Homo sapiens: one gene and its partners. The protein of the gene in region 1 interacts with the protein of each later gene in a biochemical or structural test. Each region holds a gene or a part of one and is shown in the gene's direction. Other genes may lie near its edges.

The links.
Region 2: of the proteins of ATF2 (region 1) and MAPK13, one has a biochemical effect on the other in vitro, tested with the Homo sapiens proteins (2 studies listed by BioGRID and IntAct).
Region 3: of the proteins of ATF2 (region 1) and MAPK1, one has a biochemical effect on the other in vitro, tested with the Homo sapiens proteins (3 studies listed by BioGRID).
Region 4: the proteins of ATF2 (region 1) and ETS1 form a complex in vitro, tested with the Homo sapiens proteins (one study listed by BioGRID).
Region 5: the proteins of ATF2 (region 1) and NCOA6 form a complex in vitro, tested with the Homo sapiens proteins (one study listed by BioGRID).
Region 6: of the proteins of ATF2 (region 1) and ATM, one has a biochemical effect on the other in vitro, tested with the Homo sapiens proteins (one study listed by BioGRID).
Region 7: the proteins of ATF2 (region 1) and CREBBP form a complex in vitro, tested with the Homo sapiens proteins (2 studies listed by BioGRID).

Annotation. Positions count from the first base shown.
Region 1 is NC_000002.12:175,158,204-175,161,703, reverse strand, and holds part of ATF2 (cyclic AMP-dependent transcription factor ATF-2), read left to right. Parts: intron 1-3,500. UniProt on the Homo sapiens protein: Transcriptional activator which regulates the transcription of various genes, including those involved in anti-apoptosis, cell growth, and DNA damage response.
Region 2 is NC_000006.12:36,140,513-36,142,766, forward strand, and holds part of MAPK13 (mitogen-activated protein kinase 13), read left to right. Parts: 3' UTR 1-2,254. UniProt on the Homo sapiens protein: Serine/threonine kinase which acts as an essential component of the MAP kinase signal transduction pathway.
Region 3 is NC_000022.11:21,791,146-21,794,645, reverse strand, and holds part of MAPK1 (mitogen-activated protein kinase 1), read left to right. Parts: intron 1-3,500. UniProt on the Homo sapiens protein: Serine/threonine kinase which acts as an essential component of the MAP kinase signal transduction pathway. MAPK1/ERK2 and MAPK3/ERK1 are the 2 MAPKs which play an important role in the MAPK/ERK cascade.
Region 4 is NC_000011.10:128,486,559-128,490,058, reverse strand, and holds part of ETS1 (protein C-ets-1), read left to right. Parts: intron 1-568; coding exon 569-769; intron 770-3,500. UniProt on the Homo sapiens protein: Transcription factor. Directly controls the expression of cytokine and chemokine genes in a wide variety of different cellular contexts. May control the differentiation, survival and proliferation of lymphoid cells.
Region 5 is NC_000020.11:34,749,152-34,752,651, reverse strand, and holds part of NCOA6 (nuclear receptor coactivator 6), read left to right. Parts: intron 1-2,132; coding exon 2,133-3,249; intron 3,250-3,255; exon of another isoform or gene 3,256-3,500. UniProt on the Homo sapiens protein: Nuclear receptor coactivator that directly binds nuclear receptors and stimulates the transcriptional activities in a hormone-dependent fashion. Coactivates expression in an agonist- and AF2-dependent manner.
Region 6 is NC_000011.10:108,327,567-108,331,066, forward strand, and holds part of ATM (serine-protein kinase ATM), read left to right. Parts: intron 1-78; coding exon 79-192; intron 193-1,454; coding exon 1,455-1,672; intron 1,673-2,647; coding exon 2,648-2,855; intron 2,856-3,500.
Region 7 is NC_000016.10:3,724,554-3,727,633, reverse strand, and holds the end of CREBBP (CREB-binding protein), read left to right. Parts: 3' UTR 1-2,580; downstream 2,581-3,080. UniProt on the Homo sapiens protein: Acetylates histones, giving a specific tag for transcriptional activation. Mediates acetylation of histone H3 at 'Lys-18' and 'Lys-27' (H3K18ac and H3K27ac, respectively).

The DNA of each region.
Region 1 (3,500 bases):
ATTAAGATTTATAATGACAAATTCATTTCCATGTAGGAAACACTTGGAATAAAGAAAGTGTATATGAGTATATGATAGCCAAATTGACTGAGTTTTGTCCCTGGCACATAGTTAAGTGTGTAATCAATATTTTAGGATAGTTATTAGAAGCCAGATTATCAGGGGTCTACCACTTACTGTGTTATCTTGAGTAAATTATATAACCTCTCTGCCTCAGTTTCCTTCTCTTTAAGGAGAATAATTTAACTCATAGTCTTGCTGTGAGCATTCATGTGATATATATACAATACTTAATACAGTGTCAAGAACTTAATGAGTACTCAGTTTGTGTTGTGGGAATTATTATTGAAGTTCATTCAGAAATAATCTAGCCTAGCCCTCCAGGCATGCTTGTGCTGTAGCTTGAAAGCAGTACAGCAACCATCTACTTGGTAGCTTTGGCAACAAAGTTATTTTTCCCTAAGAATTTATAATTTGTGGAGGAACATGCCACCTTAGAATTTTCGTAAATTCATTTGAGAGAATGTCTCATATTTTTTTGTTCCATATGTACCCCTTCTCAGACATTTTCTGTATCAAATTCCTTCAGTATAGCATATCCTTATTTTAAGATGATAAAATTATGATACTGTGATTTTCATAAAATCCAATTATCTTTGTATTTTTGAGACAAAGTCTTACTCTGTCATGCAGGTTGGAGTGCAGTGATGCGACTAAGTCTCACTGCGGCTTCCACCTCTGGGGCTCGAGAGATCTTCCCACCTAAGCCTCCCAAATAGCTGGGACCACACTCACATGCCACCACACTCAGCTAGTTTTTAAATTTTTGTAGAGATGGGGTCTTGCCGTTGCCCAGGCTGGTCTCAAACTCCCAGGCTCAAGCGATCCTCCCACCTCAGTATCACAAAGTGCTGGGATTACAGGCTGCTCCCCACCCCAACTATTCTTTTCTTCTACTCCACCAATCCTATTATAAACATTCTAGGGAAACCTTTCATTTCTCCTTCCCCATAGTGGGATTGAGATTATGATTAAAATACCACAGTTCTAAAGTTGTTTTGAAGTCTCTGCTAATTATACAATTATAACTACACTATCAATTTTTGGCCACAAAGTTGAGAATCAGTGAAATATTTTATCATTTGTAAGGTAGGTTTTAATGATTGTTGATATATGGATGTTGGGTCGAGGGATATTTTTTGTAGTAATACACTTTACTTACTTGAATTTTGACATACTTTGAAAACGGAAGAAAGAGGTGAGCTTATCATTGTTTTAATGGGCATAGTACATAATCCATAGTCTTACTTTATTTCATTTTTAGAGACAGGGTCTCTATCACCCAGGCTGGAGTGTGGTGGTGCAGTCGTAGTTCACTGCTGCCTCAAACACCTGGGCTTCAGCAATCCTCCCACCTCAGCCTCCCGAGTAGCTGGGACTACAGGCATGTGCTACTATACCCAGCTAATTTTTTAATTTTTTGTAGAGATGGAGTCTCACTATGTTACCCAGGTTGGTCTTGAATTCTTGGCCTCAAGTAATCCTCCCATCTCAGCTTCACAAAGCGCTGGGGTTACAGGCGTGAGCCACCACACCAAGCCGGTAGTGTATTTTATTTGTGCCCTCTTCATAATGAGAAATTTTTATTGATGTATTTTTCATAATGGTGATGACTATGAATTACTGTAATTCTTGGAGAACTGAATTTCTATTTCTATTTTCTTTTTGCTTTTACAAAAAATAAGTTTCTCAGGAGAAAAAAAGCAATGAAAGGTATTTTATCACCTACCTTGGGCAAAAATAATGCTATGGACCTTAGACCACATAATTCTGTTACCAAATCTAAGGTGATGTTATTAGCACAACTTGTGCTACTGTTGTTTATATTCATAATTATTACTCTGTAAATTTTTTGTATTTATGTATTTGTTATTCTATTATAATTTTAAACTATAAAACTACTTGCTTTCTTTACATTGCCTAGGAATAATCAAGACTCACTTAAAAAATATTTAATTTAAAAATTGGACTACTGATATTTTAATTGAATATTTTTGAGATATTGAACTGATTTCACTCTTCACATACTCATAATACAGTCTGGAGAAGTTTGTGATACTTTTTACGTGTACCATCAACTTTGAGAAATTTCATCAAAATTTTAGTATACTCTTGGGAATTGTGTGAAGGACCTCTCTCATGTCTGCTGTGAGTGGGGGAAAAAATACTGCTGCTTTCCTTGTTAACATTGGGCTTAATATTTTTCTCTCAGCTGATGAATTTGAGTTACCTAAATTGATGAACTAAACATTATATATCAAATAAACTTACAGATAGCATCAGAATCATGGGTTAAAGATTAATATAAAACTTTTTTTTTTTTTTGAGACGGAGTCTTGCTCTGTCGCGCAGGCTGGAGTACAGTGGTAGGTTCTCAGCTCACTGAACCCTCCACCTCCCAGGCTCAAGCAGTTCTCATGCCTCAGCCTTTTGAGCAGCTGGAACTATAGTCTCCGCCACCACGCCCCGCTGATTTTTTTGTATTTTTAGTAGAGACGGGGTTTCTCCATGATGACCAGGCTGGTCTTGAACTCCTGACCTCAAGCAGTCTGCCTACCTTGGCCTCCCAAAGTGCTGGGATTACAGGGTTGAGCTATCATGCCTGGCCAAAACTCTTATCTAAAAGTCAAACTGAGTATGTAGTTCAGTTTCTGGCCTTAAAAATAAAGAAGATAGTAAGATTAGGTATTTATTAGGCATTAGAAAAATGTACATTTAAAGTCAAAGTAAAATGCAGTAAAATTTATGAACTTAATAAATACTATTTTAGTGTCATGCACTATTCTGTGTATTTTACATATGTTACTTTTATATATTTTGATAGCCCTGAAATGTATTTTTTTTTTTACTGTAGAGGATCATAGTGTAATCATACAATTTAAAATTTTCCTGGCCAGGGGCAGTGGCTCACACCTACAATCCCAGCACTTTGGGAGGCTAATACAGGAGGATCATTGCCTTGATTAATGGAGGCTTTAAGTCACTCTTATTTTAAATTATCCATTTAAAATATCCACTTGGGTTCCTGTAGAGATGACCTCAGTTTCCAGTGTTCCCCCCAGACGTTTGCTTCTTGCCGTAGGATCAGGAAGCTTTAAGGCACTCTTATTTTAAATTATCCATTTAAAATATCCATTTTAAGTTATCCATTTTAAAATTATCCCTGGATAATTTAAAATAAGAGTTTGAGCTCAAGGAATTCAAGACCAGCCTGGGCAACATCGTGAGACCGGTCACTCCAAAAAAAATTTAGCTGGGTGTGGTGGCATGTGTACCTGTGGTTCCGCCTACTGAGGAGGTTGAGGTGGGAGGATCACTTGAGCCCAGGAGATCCAGGTTGCAGTGAGCCATGGTTGGGCCACTGTACTTACAGAGCAAGACCCTGTCTCAAAAAAAAAAAAAAAAAAAATCCTGAATTCAAAATACTTTAGTCTTGAGAG
Region 2 (2,254 bases), on another chromosome or scaffold:
CCTGGGCCCCACCCCAGGGCTTGTGACTCAGCAGGTCTGCAGTTGAGACCTTAGAATGTGCATTTGAATGAGGACCTCTCGCCCTGACCCAAGCCTAGTGATTCTGATGGATATCAGACCATAGTTCGAGACATTTAGTGGATTTCAGTCATACTTGATTTGTTGGGAGGCCTAAATCAAAAACCTATAGGAGGAGACTGGGGGGCTTCAGATGGAGTTTCACACTCATCTTACAGGTGTTAAAACTGAGGCTCAGAAAGCTTTTTTTTGTTTGTTTGTTTGAGACAGGGTCTGGCTCTGTCACCCGGGCTGGAGTTCAGTGGCACAATTACATCTTACTGCAACCTCAGCCTCCTGGGCTCAAGCCATCCTCCCACCTCAGCCTCCTAAGTAGCTGGGACTACAGGTCTGTGCCACCCAGGTGCACCAGGACTGCAGGTGGCTAATTAAAACATTTTTTTTCTTTTTTGTATAGGCGGGGTTTCTCTATGTTGCCCAGGCTGATCTTGAACTTCTGGACTCAAGTGATCCTCCCACTTTGGCCTCCCAAAGTGCTGGGATTATAGGCATGAGCCACCCTGCAGGCCCAGACAGCATTTTTAAGGCCTTGAAACTCTTCTGTATAATACTGTAATGGTGGATACCTATTGTGCATTTGTTACCATCTGTAGGACTGGATAACACAGAGTGAACCCTCAAGTAAACTATGGACTTCAGTTAATAATAATGTATCAGTATTGGTTCATAAATTGTAACAATTGTGCCACACTAATGCAAGATGTTACTCATCAAGAAAACTGAGGAGAGAGAAGGGGAGGAAGTAGGTGGGAACCTCTATACTTTCTACCAACCTAAAACTGCTCTAAAAAATAAACCACAGGCCGGTCGCAGTAGCTCACGCCTGTAATCCCAGCACCTTGGGAGGCTGAGGTGGGCGGATCACTTGAGGTCAGGAGTTCAAGACCAGCCTGGCCAACATGGTGAAACCCCATCTCTACCAAAAATACAAAAATTAGCTGGGCTTGGTGGTGCATGCCTGTAATCCCAAACTACTCGGGAGGCTGAGGCAGAATTGCTTGAACCTGGGAGGTGGAGGTTGCAGTGAGCTGAGATCACACCACTGCACTCCAGCCTGGGTGACAGAGTGAGACTCCATCTCAAAAAAACAAAAAAAACAAATACCCTGAGGACACAGAGACATTGGGTCAGACACCCACAGCTAGGAAGTGGTGGAGTCAGATTGGAACCCAAGTAGGCTTGAGCACTGTACCCAGCTTGGATTCAAGGGTTGCCCAGCCTTCCCTCTTCACGCCAGTCTGAGACCCTTACTGCTGACTGTGTCCATGGTCTCTGTTTTCTCTCCCACAGAATGGCCCTGCTGTCAAGGAGCTGGGGAGTCCTTGACTGGGACTGGCTAGTCTTGCCACAGCCCTGGCCTCGCTGGTTACTAAAACTGCCCCAGGTTCCCTGAGTCTACATCCCTCTAAGCCTCCTGAGAATTCTCACTGCCCCAAGGAAAAAGTCTAGCCTTCCTTCTTGGCCTGGCATTCAAAACCCCTTGTGTTCTCTCTAATCTCATCAGCTCCCACTGCCTCCCCTAGCTAGTCCTTATGTCAGTGTGGGACACCAGTCCTGGGATCCACCGTAAGGTTCATTCTGCATTCACAGGTTAAAGGTCTTGACAAGTCCTGCAGTAAAGAGATCCGTTCCTCATTTAATCCAGAACTTCCCAGATGTACTTAACCGCAGGACCCATTTTCTCCCAACAGCATGACACACATAGCCTTTTTTGCCCAGTGCAGCCCAGTGCACAGGTCCCGATATTGCCTCTCCCCAAGTAGGCTTGGCCTTCTTTTAGTGCCCGTGCGTGGAAGGCCCTCCATTCTCCTCTCCATTCTCCTTGGCCTTCAAGGCTCTACCTTAGGCCTCCCTCCAGGCAGCTGTTCTCCATCATCCCCCCTGGGCTGCAGGCCCTCTGTGGGCAGCATTTAGTGTGTGGTTTGGCCTCCCCTTCCCATTGCCCACTGTGAGCAAATACCTGTGCGTGAATGAATAATGAGTGAAAGATGTCCCAGGGGCCTGTCGGTCACTTCTTTGCCCCGACCAGGCCAATGTCATATGGAAGGTGGCAGAGAGCCCAGCAGGAAGCAGAAGTGGGCGGCCCTGGGCTGTACCTTTGAGCTGCTCTCCTGAAAATCTCTATTATTTCAGACTCCCAGACCCCACCCCCCGCTTCATCCTCTGGTGTCCTCCT
Region 3 (3,500 bases), on another chromosome or scaffold:
CCGGCTAATTTTTGTATGTTTTTGTAGGGACAGGGTTTTGCCATGTTGGCCAGGCTGGTCTCAAACTCCTGGGCTCAACTGATCCACCCACCTCAGCCTCCCAAATTGCTAGGATTGCAGGCATGACCCACTGCGCCCAGCCAAGATCCCTTTACATTTGTTAAAAATTATCAAGGACCAGCTGGGCATGGTGGCTCACACTTATAATCCTAGCACTTTGGGAGGCCGAGGCGGGTGGATCAGTTGAGCCCAGGAGTTCGAGACCAGCCTGGCCAACATGGAGAAACCCTGTCTCTACTAAAAATACAAAAAATGCACTGGGCATGGTGGCACACACCTGTAATCCCAGCTACTTGGAGGCTGAGGCAGGAGAATCGCTTGAACCTGGGAGGTGGAGGTTGCAGTGAGCCGAGATCTTGCCACAGTACTCCAGCCTGGGTGACAGAGTGAGACTCTGTCTCAAAAAAAAAAAAAAAGTCAAGGACCCACACACCTTTTTTTAGTTACGTAGGTTATATCTATTGTTATTTACAATATGAAACTTTTTTTTTTTTAATTTTTGGAGAGAAGTCTGGCGCTTGTCCCCCAGGCTTGAGTGCAATGGCTCAATCTTGGCTCACTGCGACCTCTGCCTCCCGGGTTCAAATGATTCTCCGGCCTCGCCTCCCGTGTAGCTGAGACTACAAGTGTGTACCACCATGCCCGGCTAATTTTTGTATTTTTTAGTACAGATGGGGTTTCACCATGTTGGCCAGGCTGCTCTTGAACTTCTGACTTCAGGTGATCCACCCGCCTCGGCTTCCCAAAGTGCTGGGGTTACAGGCATGAGCCACCACACCCGGCCTACAATATGAAACTTTAAAATGTATTAATTAATTTTTAAATAGTAAACCCACTACATGTTAAGATAAATTACATGTTTTTCTTAAGAATAAGTTTATTTTCTACAATAAAAACGTTTTAGTGAGGCCAGGCATGATGGCTCTCACCTATAATCCCAACACTTTGGAAGGCCAATGCAGGAGGATCACCAGGAGTTTGGAACCAGCCCTGGTGACATAGTGAGACTCTGTACAAAAAAGAAATTTATTTATTTATTTATTTATTTTTTGAGACGGAGTCGTGCTCTGTCACCCAGGCTGGAGTGCAGTGGTGTGATCTCAGCTCACTGCAAGGTCCGCCTCCCAGGTTCACGCCATTCTCCTGCCTCAGCCTCCCGAGTAGCTGGGACTACAGGCGTCCGCCACCACGCCTGGCTAATTTTTTTGTATTTTTAGTAGAGACAGGGTTTTAACCATGTTAGCCAGGATGGGCTCAACCTCCTGACCTTGTGGTCCACCTGCCTCGGCCTTCCAAAGTGCTGGGATTACAGGTGTGAGCTGCTGTGCCCTGCCATCTGTACAAAAAATTTTAAAATCAGCTGGGCATGGTGGTGTGCACCTATAGTTCCAGCCACTCAAGAGGCTGAGATGGGAGATTTTCTTGAGCCCAGGAAATTGAGGCTGCGGTGTACCGTGATCACGCCACTGCACTCCAGCCTGGGCAACAGGGTGAGACCCTGTCTTTAAAAAAAGCAAAACGAAAAACAACCTTTTAGTGAGAAGAGTGGCATTGTTTTCATTTTTGCAAGTCTCTTTAATGTCTGGCTTAATAGAAGACAGTTGGATTCTCATCTGGTTCTGCATTCAGTCTGTCAAATATGTTGTTTTGGTTTAAGTTCATGAGGAAAACTCTTTTTTTTTTTTTTTTCAGGCTTTAATCAATTTAATAATCAATATAATATTACATGCATAGTTCTTCAAAAATGTCAAGGAAAACTCTTTCCCATGGATTTTAACTGCTTGAATTCAGAGCATAGAAAACAGAAGAAAACTTGAGTGCAATATTAATAAAGACCCTTTAAAAAAGATGTTATATAAAAAGAAAAATCGCAAGCCAGTGAAAAATACATGCAAAATTCTAAATAACATTTTAGCAAACAAAATCTATGCTTAAAAGCATAACACACAAAAAAGTGAGATTTTTCCCTAGTATGTAACAGTAATCAGACATTTTATCAAGACATTTACAAATAAGCCTAAAAATAGATGTCTGAGTGCTATTTATGAAATTCAAGATCTATTCCTCCCATCCAAGCACTAACCAGGCCAACCCTGCTTAGCTTCCGAGATCAGACAAGATCGGGCGTGTTCAGGGTGGTATGGCCAGAGGAAAACTCTTCACACAGGTATGTAGCTGGAAAAAGGAGGGAAATTTTAGTAGTCTTTTCAGCCACTTGTGGCTATTCTTTGATCCTACCCCCAGTTTAAACAAGTGGTGGTTTCTTAAAGGTTAATTGCAGTGTGGAATCTGAAATCATATCAGTGAATTCTTGATACTATTTCGTTAAAATCCATTAGTCTACCTTGCACTCATACTCATGCATGATTTTTTAGCGTATTTGGAAAATACTGGTTCACTGAGTTACACAGATATTCCAAGTGTCACATTTTCATGTACACATCATCACTCATCATATTGCATCTGGAAAAATCTTCTTTTCACTCGTGACTGAAAAGGATGAAAATGTCATAGTAGTATAATAAATGTACTGTGACCTCTCAGATCCTCTAGAGGGAACCCATAGGAGTCTCTGGAACACTCTTGTAGAACCGCCAGATAGAACTCCTAAATACCCTTTACCCCAGATTCAGGCTCACCGATTTTTTATCTTTTGCCCCATTTGCTTTATCATTCTTTGTGTGCATGTGTGTGGGCACTCCCACGCACTCTGAGTCATTTGAGAGTAAATTGTAGATACACCCCTTCACCTTGTTTCAGTATGTCTTTACTTCAAACCATGGTCCTGTTGTTCCCTGGGGACATGTGGCAGGGTTGTCACAGTGAGGGGTAGGGGTACTCCCTGCATCAAGAGGCCAGAGATGCTGCTAAAAATCCTACGATATACAGAACAGCCCTCCAAACAGAAACTTTCTCAGCCCAAAATGTTAGTCATACCGAGGTTGAAAAACCCTGCCTTAAGAGTATTCTCTAACATGACCACAGTACAGTTTTCAAAATCAAGAAACTTAATACTGATTCAGTATCTAATGCACAGTTTATATTCACATTTTAGATATTATCCCAATAACCTTTGAACTATACCCCACCCAAACCACCCCCCGACCTGGGCACAGGTTCACATGTTGTACTGTCATGAGTTTTGTTTGTTTGCTTGTTTGCTTGCTTGTTTTAAGACCAGGTTCGCAGGCCAGCCACAGTGGCTCACACCTGTAATCCCAGCACTCTGGGAGGCCAAGGTGGGTGAATCACATGGGGTCAGGAGTTCGAGATCAGCCTGGCCAACATGGCAAAACCCTGTCTCTGCTAAAAATACAAAAAATTTAGCTGGACATAGTGGCAGGCACCTGTGATCCCAGCTACTCAGGAGGCTGAGGCAGGAGAATCGCTTGAACCCAGGAGGTGGAGGTTGCATGAGCTGAGATCGTGCCATTGCACTC
Region 4 (3,500 bases), on another chromosome or scaffold:
TTATGATAAGTACAGACTTTGCAGAGTATCTGGTATAATACAGGCACCTAATAATGTTATTACCAAGTGCCATTTGAATGAATGACTACTACTAATTGCTACAATTGTTACCACTATAATTGGCTAAGATAAAAAATAATCGAGAATAATAGTCTCAAGTATATTATAGTTAAGAGCAGGGAGAGGCATGAGCAATCTCTTGTTATTATTGCTATTAAAGAAGCCATTTGTTCTGTTCAGGGCTTTAAAAAAGTCCAATGGGAATAAGGCAGTGAGAGAGGAGATTCATGGAAATCTTTGCCTGCAAGGACAGAGAATACTCATGTGGTACTTTTTGGCTGGCAGTAGTGACCTCCTAGCTGGTGAAATAGAGAAGGCGGAGATGTTGAATATGGAGGGGAGGGTTATGGAAGGCACTCAATGATGTGCAGGCTAGGCTGATGCTTCCTCATTCGATGAATAAAGATAGCATTCTCAGCTAAATTCAGCTCCTTCAGTGTCCTCTCTGAGGCTTGGATAGGAGTTAAAAGCCCGACCTGCTGGATCTTCATCTGATCTCTTTCCTCAGACCCCCGGCAGTGGACAGAAACCCATGTTCGGGACTGGGTGATGTGGGCTGTGAATGAATTCAGCCTGAAAGGTGTAGACTTCCAGAAGTTCTGTATGAATGGAGCAGCCCTCTGCGCCCTGGGTAAAGACTGCTTTCTCGAGCTGGCCCCAGACTTTGTTGGGGACATCTTATGGGAACATCTAGAGATCCTGCAGAAAGGTAAATATGTGGAAACAGAGAGAGGTGGAGGTTATGTGGGGTTGCTGTGAGAGTAGGTAGGGGGCTCACCCAATGGTGGGACGTCAATGCCTTTATCTGTGGGTGTCCTACTGTAGGACGTATGTGGGAATGTGCCTAGTACACTGCTCAGCATACAGCAGGTACTCTTAGATGAGTGTAATTTCTTTTTCTTCTACATATTGGGGGTTCAGATATTAATCTTCAGCAAGATTGTACCACTGAAGCTTCTTGGATTGCAACATTCTAATCCAGGTCCTTATCTCAAACCCATGCCCTGGTTGAACAAGCAGTGCCCACAGCCAACCCAAGAATAGTTTTTGTTTTTGTTTTTGTTTTTGTTTTCTGCAATCTTAATACACACTGCCTTGATGCATGCCCCATAATACCTCATCACATCCCGGGAAAGCTTAGCGTCTGAGACCGTATTAATAAGACAGATTTCTCTGCCCACTAACTGAATTGGAATTGCAGTAGTGCATCATACCTTTTACATCTGGAGCAGGAACTGGGGTTATATCAGGACGCTATGTTGCAACCTTATAATGACATGGCCTCCCCTAACAGCCTCTTCCAACCTTTTTGGACCAAGTGACTCATGTACCACAGTCCTGGCTGAGTATAGAAACAGCAGCAGGCGGCAAACTTGGGTGTTTTTGTGCTTATTTTTTTGAATTTTTTCTTAAAATAAATTGCAGTTACCAGCAGTCAGCAGTGCCCTTCAGCTGACTGTAAGCCTAGAAGCCCATTGCCCTCTCTAACCCAGGCCCATCCTTTCCCTGTGGTCATCAGCTCTAACCCTTGGCACAGACGCTGGGGGAGGGGAGCAAAACTCAGGATTAGCACTTTTACCCCGCATTATACCTTCCTTTGGTTAAGAATATATTCCATTCTGCAGTGCTCAAGAGAGACCCAAACTAGATTTCTCTGTGCTCAAAAATGTTATCTTTATTCCTTCTTTTCACTTTCTGTTGAAAAATAAGACATAAAGGAATACAGGAAAGAACTAGGTGAGTCTTTCTGTGGCTGCTTTTACCGAGGATGGCAGGCAGTTGCAAAGCACCGGCATGTTCTCCATGCACAGACACCCACTCATAGGTGTTGACATGAGCGACCTGTTTATAGAGGGAAACGATACGGCAGGCTCCTAACAGATCTGATTTGACTGTTGACTTCTAAACACAATAGCAGATTCAATCAGACTGTGTAACCCAGTATATTCTACTAAGAGGCTGTTTTCCTCCATTTATCAAAATGGAGCTGCTAGGTGTTTTGGGCTATCTAAGCCCATCTCTGATTGTAGTTACAATTAATATCTCTATCATGTCTCCCTGTTTCCAAAGTGCTTTCAAATACATTTTCTCTTTGGATTATCAAAATAACTGTGAGATAGTAAGGACAAGTCCTATTATTGTCCTTGTCTGTAAAATGAAGCTCAGGGTAGGCGATTTCTTCAGTATCACTCATCTCCTTTTCTTCATTTTATTTCAACTTTCAGTATATTTTTATTTTATTTTATTTTATTTATTTTTTGAGACAGAGTCTTGCTCTGTCACCCAGGCTGGAGTGCAGTCGCGCGATGTCGGCTCACTGCAACCTTCGCCTCCTAGGTTCAAGCGATTCTCCTGCCTCACCCTCCTGAGTAGCTGGGACTACAGGCGCATGCCACCATGCCTAGCTAATTTTTGTATTTTTAGTAGAGTCAGGGCTTCACCGTGTTGGCCAGGATGGTCTTGATCCCTTGACCTCGTGATCTGCCCACCTTGGCCTCCCAAAACACTGGGATTACAGGCGTGAGCCACCGCGCCTGCCCTCAATATATTTTTATTTAACTTAAAATTTAACATCCCATCCTGTGCTTTTTGTATAATAATGTGGATTCACAGGGGCCTTCTGGCCGCTAAGACTGGTTTGGCCTCACTTAGGGTAAAGGAATAATGTAAGAAAATTTAAGAGAATTAGGATATAAGTCAGTATGTTTGAGAGCAAAAGTCATATCTTCCCACCCAATATTCTGTTGAGAGAGGCAGAAAGAATTCTCCCTCTTCAGGTTCAGTTACTTGAAGAGATGAGCATGATGTTTGTGCTGAGGCTACAGCTTTTGTTCTGTAATTAAAGCAACACAGCAGCAAAAGAACATAGCTGTTTGGGGTGGGGTGGAAGGTGAAAGGTACGGGGATGTTTCAATCTGATAAACTGCTAAAGCAAAGTTTAATCATTTTATCTCAACTGGGAACTGTTTTTCTGTGCAGGCATAAACTTGTTTTCCCATCAGACTTTGCTCCTAACAAGCTATCAAATACCTGAGGAAAAACCCAAACCCATACTCTATGTCAGATTCTTATGGTGAAATATAATCAGACTACTCCATACAAGAATCGGAGCCATGGCATTTGTTCCAGGGTAATTAGAGGATCCCAGGCTTACTGCAGGGTCGTTCAGAGCTTTCTGTCCGCAGGTGCACTTCGTCTCCCTTCCTCTCCTTTTCCTAGGGGAGTTGGCATCTGGGCAGGAGCTTGACTGGGTTGCTCTTCTCTCCCTTGACACAAGCGCAGTCGCATTTCACCAAATGGAGTCACCTTACCAGTGTCCTGCTTCTTGTCTGGGCCTGAACTTGAAACCTGAGGGCAATGGGAAAAATACAAAACAAAAACCAGACATCTGTTAGAGGAAATGGAGAACGTAAAATCTATGGCCTAAAGACTGCAATATA
Region 5 (3,500 bases), on another chromosome or scaffold:
CGGCCCACGTGTACATGTTTTGGTTTCCCCATTTATCCTATCTAAAGTAGCTCTACTCTTATCTCTTACTTTCTCTTCTCTCACCCTACTTTCTCTTGTTAGCTTTTACTGCTTCCTGAAAAAATACTTGTCTGTTTGTTAGTTGTGTCTCTTGCCAGTTAGACTGTAGGCTCCAAGGATGCAGGGATTTGGTCTGTCTTGTTTATTGATGTTACCTCAGCACCAAAGTGCCTTCTATGTATCAGGTACTTAATGAATAATTGTCAGTTGAATGAATATACACAGTATATTTATTGTATACAAGCATATACAATGGTCATGGAGTTCCACTTTGAGTTTATAAGGCTGGTTTAGAAAATCTTCCTTAGAGTTCAGGAGAAGTCTGGATAGTGTGAACAAGGTAGTTTGCCCCCTGCCTTCATAGTTGGAGCATGGACTGGCTTCATAACTTCATTGTAGGGGATTTTCTAGTCCCCATTTAAAAGTGAAAAATAAGGCCAAGTGCGGTGGCTCAGCCTGTAATCCCAGCACTTTGGGAGGCCAAGGCGGGTGGATCACCTGAGGTCAGCAGTTCGAGACCAGCCTGACCAACATGCTGAAACCCTGTCTCTACTGAAAATACAAAAATTAGCCGGGTGTGTTGTTGTGCGCTTCTAGTTTCAGCTACTGGGGAGGCTGAGGCATGAAAATCACTTGAACCCAGGAGGTGGAGGTTGCAATGAGCCGAGGTTGCACCAGAGCCAGATTCTGTCTCAAAAACAAAACAACAAAAAAAGTGAAAAATAAAAGGGACAAAATTAACTACAAAGTTATTCAGTTAAACGGGGAGATAATGCAAGTAGCTATAGGAAAATCCCAAAGACCCAGTAAATAAATAAGCACTACAGCAAGGCGGGTAGCAACTTTTGTCTAAGTTAGAAATAGCTGAGAAGACTAAAACATGTGCCACATGATTCACCAGGGACTGCGCAGGAGAGGGTCACTGAGGTTTTATTATTCCTCTATTTGCAGCTTCCAGATGGGTCATCTAGTCAGTTGGCTCCCACCAGAGGCTCAGCTTCCAGATCAAGATTAACTGCTTTTTACCACATCAGGGCAGAGGACACCTGTCCTTGGTGTTATTTTCTTTGAAGTGCAGCATCCACATATCACACACATAGCTTTTGAGAGTCATTATTATTACAGTTTTCCAAGAAGCATTTTTAAATGTCTTCTCATGATTGTTGAGGTTTTCCTAAGAGGACACTTCACATTCTTTTTTTTTTTTTTTTTTTTGAGACGGAGTCTTGCTCTGTCGCCCAGGCTGGACTGCGGACTGCAGTGGCGCAATCTCGGCTCACTGCAAGCTCCGCTTCCCGGGTTCACGCCATTCTCCTGCCTCAGCCTCCCGAGTAGCTGGGACTACAGGCGCCTGCCACCGCGCCCGGCTAATTTTTTGTATTTTTAGTAGAGACGGGGTTTCACCTTGTTAGCCAGGATGGTCTCGATCTCCTGACCTCGTGATCCACCCGCCTCGGCCTCCCAAAGTGCTGGGATTACAGGCGTGAGCCACCGCGCCCGGCCGACACTTCACATTCTTATAGCAGAGTTATTTCAGTAGCCCATAGTGCTTTTTGAATTTAATTTAATTTAATTTTTTGAGACGGGGTTTCACTCTGTCACCAGGCTGGAGTGCAATGGCATGATCTTGGCTCACTTCAACCTCCACCTCCCAGGCTCAAGCAATCCGCCTGCCTCAGCCTCCCAAAGTGCTGGGATTACAGGCATGAACCACCCGAGCCTGGCCACTACAAGTCATTTTAAAACAGTGAGATGCTGCCTTTCTCATTATTTAATCTGAAAGAAAGTAAACTTTCTTGATCTTTGAAACGTTAAATCTTTAAGATACCATATGGGAATGTAGAAACTGTTTCTCCTTCTCTATTATATGGTCATTGGGAATGTAAGCAGTTATCCCACAGCCACATCTTTGTAGTTTAGAAAACTCACAGGAAGTATGTCAACAGCATATTTATGTTGGTCAGTGGATATAAGGGTGATGGATGTCTTTCTGAGTAATGTAACTTGAGTATCTTAATACCAATAAGATAAAAATATTTATTTCTGAAACTGTGACTTTTTTTTTTTTTAAGGTGGTCAAGGAGCTGGTCCTCCTCAAAACCAGATGCAGGTGTCCCACGGGCCGCCAAATATGATGCAGCCCAGCCTCATGGGAATTCATGGCAACATGAACAATCAGCAGGCTGGTACTTCTGGGGTTCCTCAAGTGAACCTCAGCAACATGCAAGGCCAGCCCCAGCAGGGCCCACCATCTCAGCTGATGGGCATGCACCAGCAAATCGTGCCCTCCCAGGGCCAGATGGTCCAGCAACAAGGAACCTTGAACCCTCAGAACCCTATGATCCTTTCAAGGGCCCAGCTTATGCCACAGGGCCAGATGATGGTGAACCCCCCGAGCCAAAATCTTGGGCCCTCGCCCCAAAGGATGACCCCACCCAAGCAGATGCTTTCCCAGCAGGGCCCACAAATGATGGCGCCACATAACCAGATGATGGGGCCTCAGGGGCAGGTTTTGCTCCAACAGAACCCAATGATAGAGCAGATTATGACCAATCAAATGCAGGGGAATAAGCAGCAGTTTAACACTCAGAACCAGTCCAATGTCATGCCGGGACCAGCCCAGATAATGAGGGGACCAACTCCAAACATGCAAGGAAATATGGTGCAGTTTACGGGACAGATGTCAGGACAGATGCTGCCCCAGCAAGGGCCTGTGAACAACAGTCCATCTCAGGTTATGGGCATTCAGGGACAGGTCCTGCGGCCACCAGGGCCCAGCCCACACATGGCCCAGCAGCATGGTGATCCTGCTACTACAGCAAATAACGATGTCAGTTTATCTCAGATGATGCCTGATGTTAGCATTCAACAAACCAACATGGTCCCCCCTCATGTGCAGGCCATGCAGGGAAACAGTGCCTCGGGAAACCACTTCTCAGGCCATGGGATGTCTTTCAATGCACCTTTCAGTGGAGCTCCCAATGGAAATCAGATGTCCTGTGGTCAAAATCCAGGCTTCCCAGTCAATAAGGATGTCACGCTAACGAGCCCATTGTTGGTCAACTTATTGCAGAGTGACATATCTGCAGGCCATTTTGGGGTAAACAATAAGCAAAATAATACCAACGCAAATAAACCGAAGAAGAAGAAACCCCCTCGGAAGAAGAAAAATAGTCAGCAAGATCTAAAGTAGGTTGTGATGGTTTTGCCTCAAATTTTATTCATTTGTTTTCTGTGTGGATAACTTTTTTGATGGAAAATTTTACAGAATATAAAACTAGAATAGTATAATGAAATCCCCCTGCTTCAATAATTATCAACTCATAGTCTGTCTTGCCTTCATCTGTACTCTCTTCCATTACCCTTTTGAGTATTTCAAAGCAAATTCGCTGGGTAAATATTTCAGTGTGTGTCTCTAAAAGATAAGGACACTTTTTAAT
Region 6 (3,500 bases), on another chromosome or scaffold:
TTTTCCCCGTACATGAAGGGCAGTTGGGTACAGTCATGGTAATGCATTATATTTTAAGATTTTGCCTTTCTTATACAGAACAATCCCAGCCTAAAACTTACATACACAGAATGTCTGAGGGTTTGTGGCAACTGGTTAGCAGAAACGTGCTTAGAAAATCCTGCGGTCATCATGCAGACCTATCTAGAAAAGGTAAGATTTTTGGAGCAACCCTTAAGATAGTTACTTAGCATGAATATGCTTCATCTTTTCATCAAGATCAATATATTTCCAAAGCAAATAAAAGTATGGTTTTATTTTTCTATATATTATTACTGTTGTAGCTCTGTATAGTCTCTAGGGTGGAGTGAAACATTGTTACAAAACAAAGCAGCCAATTTTGAAAGTAAGCCCAAGTATAGTATCTCTTCTTCCTCCTTCCTACCTCCACTACCAGCTACCCTTTCAGCAGGTTGCTTCTGATCATTTCTTCATTTATGCATCTACAAAAATAACTGATTAAGAATAGGCAAGTCAGCCCTTGCTCTTCATTAGCCCAGCCACCCACAAGTAAAGGCTTCAATATACTAGCCCCTTTGACTTTCCTGTTTCTCCCTCTTATTCCTTTAGATTCACTAATTTTGGAAATAGTTACCTCACTAAATAAGTGTAACATGAAACACATGATGCGATTGTCTTTCTTTTCTTTTCTTTTCTTTGAGATGAAGTCTCTCTCTGTCGCCCAAGCTGGAGTGCAGTGGCGCAATCTCGGCTCACTGCAACCTCTGCCTCCTGGGTTCAAGCGATTCTCCTGCCTCAGCTTCCCAAGTAGCTGGGACTACAGGAGTGTGCCACCACACCCGGCTAATATTTTTTATTTTTAGTAGAGACGGTTTCGCCACATTGGCCAGTCTGGTCTCGAACTCCTGACCTCAAGTGATCCACCTGCCTCGGCCTCCCAAAGTGCTGGCATTACAGGCTTGAGCCACCACACCCAGCCTGATTGTCTTTAAATTTTATAAAGTTCTCTGTTTTTGCAGAGTTCTTTACAAGTATTAGCTGTCTGGGTTATTTCTACACTGTCAAAGTTGTTTTGAAAAGTCAAGAAAATACCATAGTTCAGGGCTGTCCAATCTTTTGGCTTCCCTGGGCCACATTGCAAGAAGAATTGCCTTGGGCCACACATAAAATATACTAACATTAATGATAGCTAATGAGCTTAAAAAAAATCACAAAAGAAATCTCATAATGTTTTAAGAAAATGTACGAATTTGTGTTGGGCCACATTCAAAGCCGTCCTGGGCCACATGCGGCCCATGGGCCGTGGGTTGGACAAGTTTGCAATAGTTCATATAATTTAGCTAGCTTTTATATGTATATAAGTTAAATTTTAGTGTATTACCTTAATTTGAGTGATTCTTTAGATGTATTTAGTATTTGTAAATATAATTTAAATTGGTTGTGTTTTCTTGAAGGCAGTAGAAGTTGCTGGAAATTATGATGGAGAAAGTAGTGATGAGCTAAGAAATGGAAAAATGAAGGCATTTCTCTCATTAGCCCGGTTTTCAGATACTCAATACCAAAGAATTGAAAACTACATGAAATCATCGGAATTTGAAAACAAGCAAGCTCTCCTGAAAAGAGCCAAAGAGGAAGTAGGTCTCCTTAGGGAACATAAAATTCAGACAAACAGGTAACTAGGTTTCTACAAGTGACAATTTTATGTTCACCAGTTAACTGAGTGAGTGTTTTTGCATAGAAAGAGTGACTTGGTCTTTTTATCTGATATAGTTTTGAGCTCTAAAGGTCGGCTTAACTATATATAGATTATCTTGGTCTTTTGGGTTCTTTTCGGTTTTTGTTTTTTGTTTTTTTTTTTGAGACAAGGTCTCACTCTGTCACCCAGGCTGGAGTACAGTGGCGTGATCACTGTACTCCAGCTCACTGCAACCTCGACCTCCTGGACTCAATTGATTCTCCCCCTGAGCCCCCGAAATAGCTGGGGCTACAGGTGCACGCCATACCTGGCTAATTTTTGTATTTTTTGTAGAGATGGGGTTTTGCCATGTTGCCCAGGTTGGTCTCAAACTCATGGGCTCAAACGATCTGCCCACCTTGGCCGCCCAAAGTGCTGGGATTACAGGTGTGAGGCACTGTGCCCTGTCTGTCTTGGTCCTACTGTAGTTAATCACAAATTAGTATGTAAGATATTGACGTGTTCTTTTGTGAATAATTCATGCTCTGCTTCTAAGTTCATTGTGGAGAATATAGATATTAGCTTTCTGTTTTGCTTTTTTGGTTTGTTTGTTGGTATCATAGTGGAAAAGGAGATAGATATTGAAATTAATTACAAAAGTTACCTATTTTGATGTAATTAAATCCCTTTATTTAAGCCTGTCTTGAATCTGTATATTTTAGTGTAAGCAGAGGTGTAAGTTAGCTAAATAGCTTGGGGAGAGTCCCCTTTGTCCTTTGATGCTTAGGAAGGTGTGTGAATTGCACAGTTAAGACAAAAGTAAGTTTATTCCCTTTATAATCCTTAGAAGTTTGCTTTTTTCCCTGGGATAAAAACCCAACTTTTTTCATTAAATGTTGTATATCATGTGTGATTTTGTAGTTCTGTTAAAGTTCATGGCTTTTGTGTTTTACCTTAATTATTCTATGCAAGATACACAGTAAAGGTTCAGCGAGAGCTGGAGTTGGATGAATTAGCCCTGCGTGCACTGAAAGAGGATCGTAAACGCTTCTTATGTAAAGCAGTTGAAAATTATATCAACTGCTTATTAAGTGGAGAAGAACATGATATGTGGGTATTCCGACTTTGTTCCCTCTGGCTTGAAAATTCTGGAGTTTCTGAAGTCAATGGCATGATGAAGGCAAGTGTTACTCAGCCCAATATTCTACCCTGTGCTTGAAAAACTTAGACATAAGCCCCTTGATGTCAGGAATCGTGTATACCTCTTTGTATTCCTAGCACTTGGTCCAGTGCTCTACACATAAGTAGCATTTTGTAGTTTTCTAAACTTTGATCCATATTTAGGATTATTTACAAGTTCTAGTCTTGTTTCTACAAAAGTTCCTTTGTATTATATAAGCTGACAAGCTGTAAATGATGCAAGTTTGTGTGGAGGTGATAGAATTTAGCTTGGTCCTATGTCTTTGCAGTTACCATAGGAGAGGGTCTAGAATGGGGCATTAGATTGGAGGATTTAGAAAGCAGTTAAAGATGATGTGATCACAGGTGGGTTTTCCCCCTGCTGCAGAAATATGGGATTTTTACAATAAATTACTTTTGTAAGTAGAGAAAATATATTTTTCAGAAAATGTCAAGACAGCAGTATTGTATAAGTTTTTCTTTGAAAACCTTAGATTATAGTGATGACACCTAATATTAAATTTAAGTTGACAAGCTATATATTGTTAGTCAATTTGAAGGTTAGAGATAAAATGTTTCTCCTGCAGGAAAATAATAAGACTCATAATAGATACAGTCAATCTCTGCTGTAGTATACACTAAATAT
Region 7 (3,080 bases), on another chromosome or scaffold:
AGATGGAACTGCGACTTCCGAGCCATGGAAGGGTGGATTGATGTTTAAAGAAACAATACAAAGAATATATTTTTTTGTTAAAAACCAGTTGATTTAAATATCTGGTCTCTCTCTTTGGTTTTTTTTTGGCGGGGGGGTGGGGGGGGTTCTTTTTTTTCCGTTTTGTTTTTGTTTGGGGGGAGGGGGGTTTTGTTTGGATTCTTTTTGTCGTCATTGCTGGTGACTCATGCCTTTTTTTAACGGGAAAAACAAGTTCATTATATTCATATTTTTTATTTGTATTTTCAAGACTTTAAACATTTATGTTTAAAAGTAAGAAGAAAAATAATATTCAGAACTGATTCCTGAAATAATGCAAGCTTATAATGTATCCCGATAACTTTGTGATGTTTCGGGAAGATTTTTTTCTATAGTGAACTCTGTGGGCGTCTCCCAGTATTACCCTGGATGATAGGAATTGACTCCGGCGTGCACACACGTACACACCCACACACATCTATCTATACATAATGGCTGAAGCCAAACTTGTCTTGCAGATGTAGAAATTGTTGCTTTGTTTCTCTGATAAAACTGGTTTTAGACAAAAAATAGGGATGATCACTCTTAGACCATGCTAATGTTACTAGAGAAGAAGCCTTCTTTTCTTTCTTCTATGTGAAACTTGAAATGAGGAAAAGCAATTCTAGTGTAAATCATGCAAGCGCTCTAATTCCTATAAATACGAAACTCGAGAAGATTCAATCACTGTATAGAATGGTAAAATACCAACTCATTTCTTATATCATATTGTTAAATAAACTGTGTGCAACAGACAAAAAGGGTGGTCCTTCTTGAATTCATGTACATGGTATTAACACTTAGTGTTCGGGGTTTTTTGTTATGAAAATGCTGTTTTCAACATTGTATTTGGACTATGCATGTGTTTTTTCCCCATTGTATATAAAGTACCGCTTAAAATTGATATAAATTACTGAGGTTTTTAACATGTATTCTGTTCTTTAAGATCCCTGTAAGAATGTTTAAGGTTTTTATTTATTTATATATATTTTTTGAGTCTGTTCTTTGTAAGACATGGTTCTGGTTGTTCGCTCATAGCGGAGAGGCTGGGGCTGCGGTTGTGGTTGTGGCGGCGTGGGTGGTGGCTGGGAACTGTGGCCCAGGCTTAGCGGCCGCCCGGAGGCTTTTCTTCCCGGAGACTGAGGTGGGCGACTGAGGTGGGCGGCTCAGCGTTGGCCCCACACATTCGAGGCTCACAGGTGATTGTCGCTCACACAGTTAGGGTCGTCAGTTGGTCTGAAACTGCATTTGGCCCACTCCTCCATCCTCCCTGTCCGTCGTAGCTGCCACCCCCAGAGGCGGCGCTTCTTCCCGTGTTCAGGCGGCTCCCCCCCCCCGTACACGACTCCCAGAATCTGAGGCAGAGAGTGCTCCAGGCTCGCGAGGTGCTTTCTGACTTCCCCCCAAATCCTGCCGCTGCCGCGCAGCATGTCCCGTGTGGCGTTTGAGGAAATGCTGAGGGACAGACACCTTGGAGCACCAGCTCCGGTCCCTGTTACAGTGAGAAAGGTCCCCCACTTCGGGGGATACTTGCACTTAGCCACATGGTCCTGCCTCCCTTGGAGTCCAGTTCCAGGCTCCCTTACTGAGTGGGTGAGACAAGTTCACAAAAACCGTAAAACTGAGAGGAGGACCATGGGCAGGGGAGCTGAAGTTCATCCCCTAAGTCTACCACCCCCAGCACCCAGAGAACCCACTTTATCCCTAGTCCCCCAACAAAGGCTGGTCTAGGTGGGGGTGATGGTAATTTTAGAAATCACGCCCCAAATAGCTTCCGTTTGGGCCCTTACATTCACAGATAGGTTTTAAATAGCTGAATACTTGGTTTGGGAATCTGAATTCGAGGAACCTTTCTAAGAAGTTGGAAAGGTCCGATCTAGTTTTAGCACAGAGCTTTGAACCTTGAGTTATAAAATGCAGAATAATTCAAGTAAAAATAAGACCACCATCTGGCACCCCTGACCAGCCCCCATTCACCCCATCCCAGGAGGGGAAGCACAGGCCGGGCCTCCGGTGGAGATTGCTGCCACTGCTCGGCCTGCTGGGTTCTTAACCTCCAGTGTCCTCTTCATCTTTTCCACCCGTAGGGAAACCTTGAGCCATGTGTTCAAACAAGAAGTGGGGCTAGAGCCCGAGAGCAGCAGCTCTAAGCCCACACTCAGAAAGTGGCGCCCTCCTGGTTGTGCAGCCTTTTAATGTGGGCAGTGGAGGGGCCTCTGTTTCAGGTTATCCTGGAATTCAAAACGTTATGTACCAACCTCATCCTCTTTGGAGTCTGCATCCTGTGCAACCGTCTTGGGCAATCCAGATGTCGAAGGATGTGACCGAGAGCATGGTCTGTGGATGCTAACCCTAAGTTTGTCGTAAGGAAATTTCTGTAAGAAACCTGGAAAGCCCCAACGCTGTGTCTCATGCTGTATACTTAAGAGGAGAAGAAAAAGTCCTATATTTGTGATCAAAAAGAGGAAACTTGAAATGTGATGGTGTTTATAATAAAAGATGGTAAAACTACTTGGATTCAAAGATGGTTCAGATTGGCTAATGACTTACAGTTAGCTCAACGGCTCGTCATTATAGGATTGCAGATGCGGGCCCGGTGCGGTGGCTCACGCCTGTAATCCCAGCACTTTGGGAGGCCAAGGCGGGTGGATCATGAAGTCGGGAGTTCGAGACCAGCCTGGCCAAGAAGGTGAAACCCCATCTCTATTAAAATACAAAAAAATTAGCCGGGTGTGGTGGCAGGCGCCTAGAATCCCAGCTACTCAGGAGGCTGAGGCAGAGAATCGCTTGAACCCAGGAGGCGGAGGTTGCAGTGAGCCGGGATCGTGCCACTGCACTACAGCCTGGGCAACAGTGAGATTTTGTCTCAAAAAAACGATTGTAGGTGGTGCTGGCCGGGCTTGGTGGCTCATGCCTGTAATCCCAGCACTTTGGGAGTCTGAGGCGGGCAGATCACATGGTCAGGAGTTTGAGACGAGCCTGGCCAATATGGTGAAACCCCATCTCTACTACAAAAAATACAA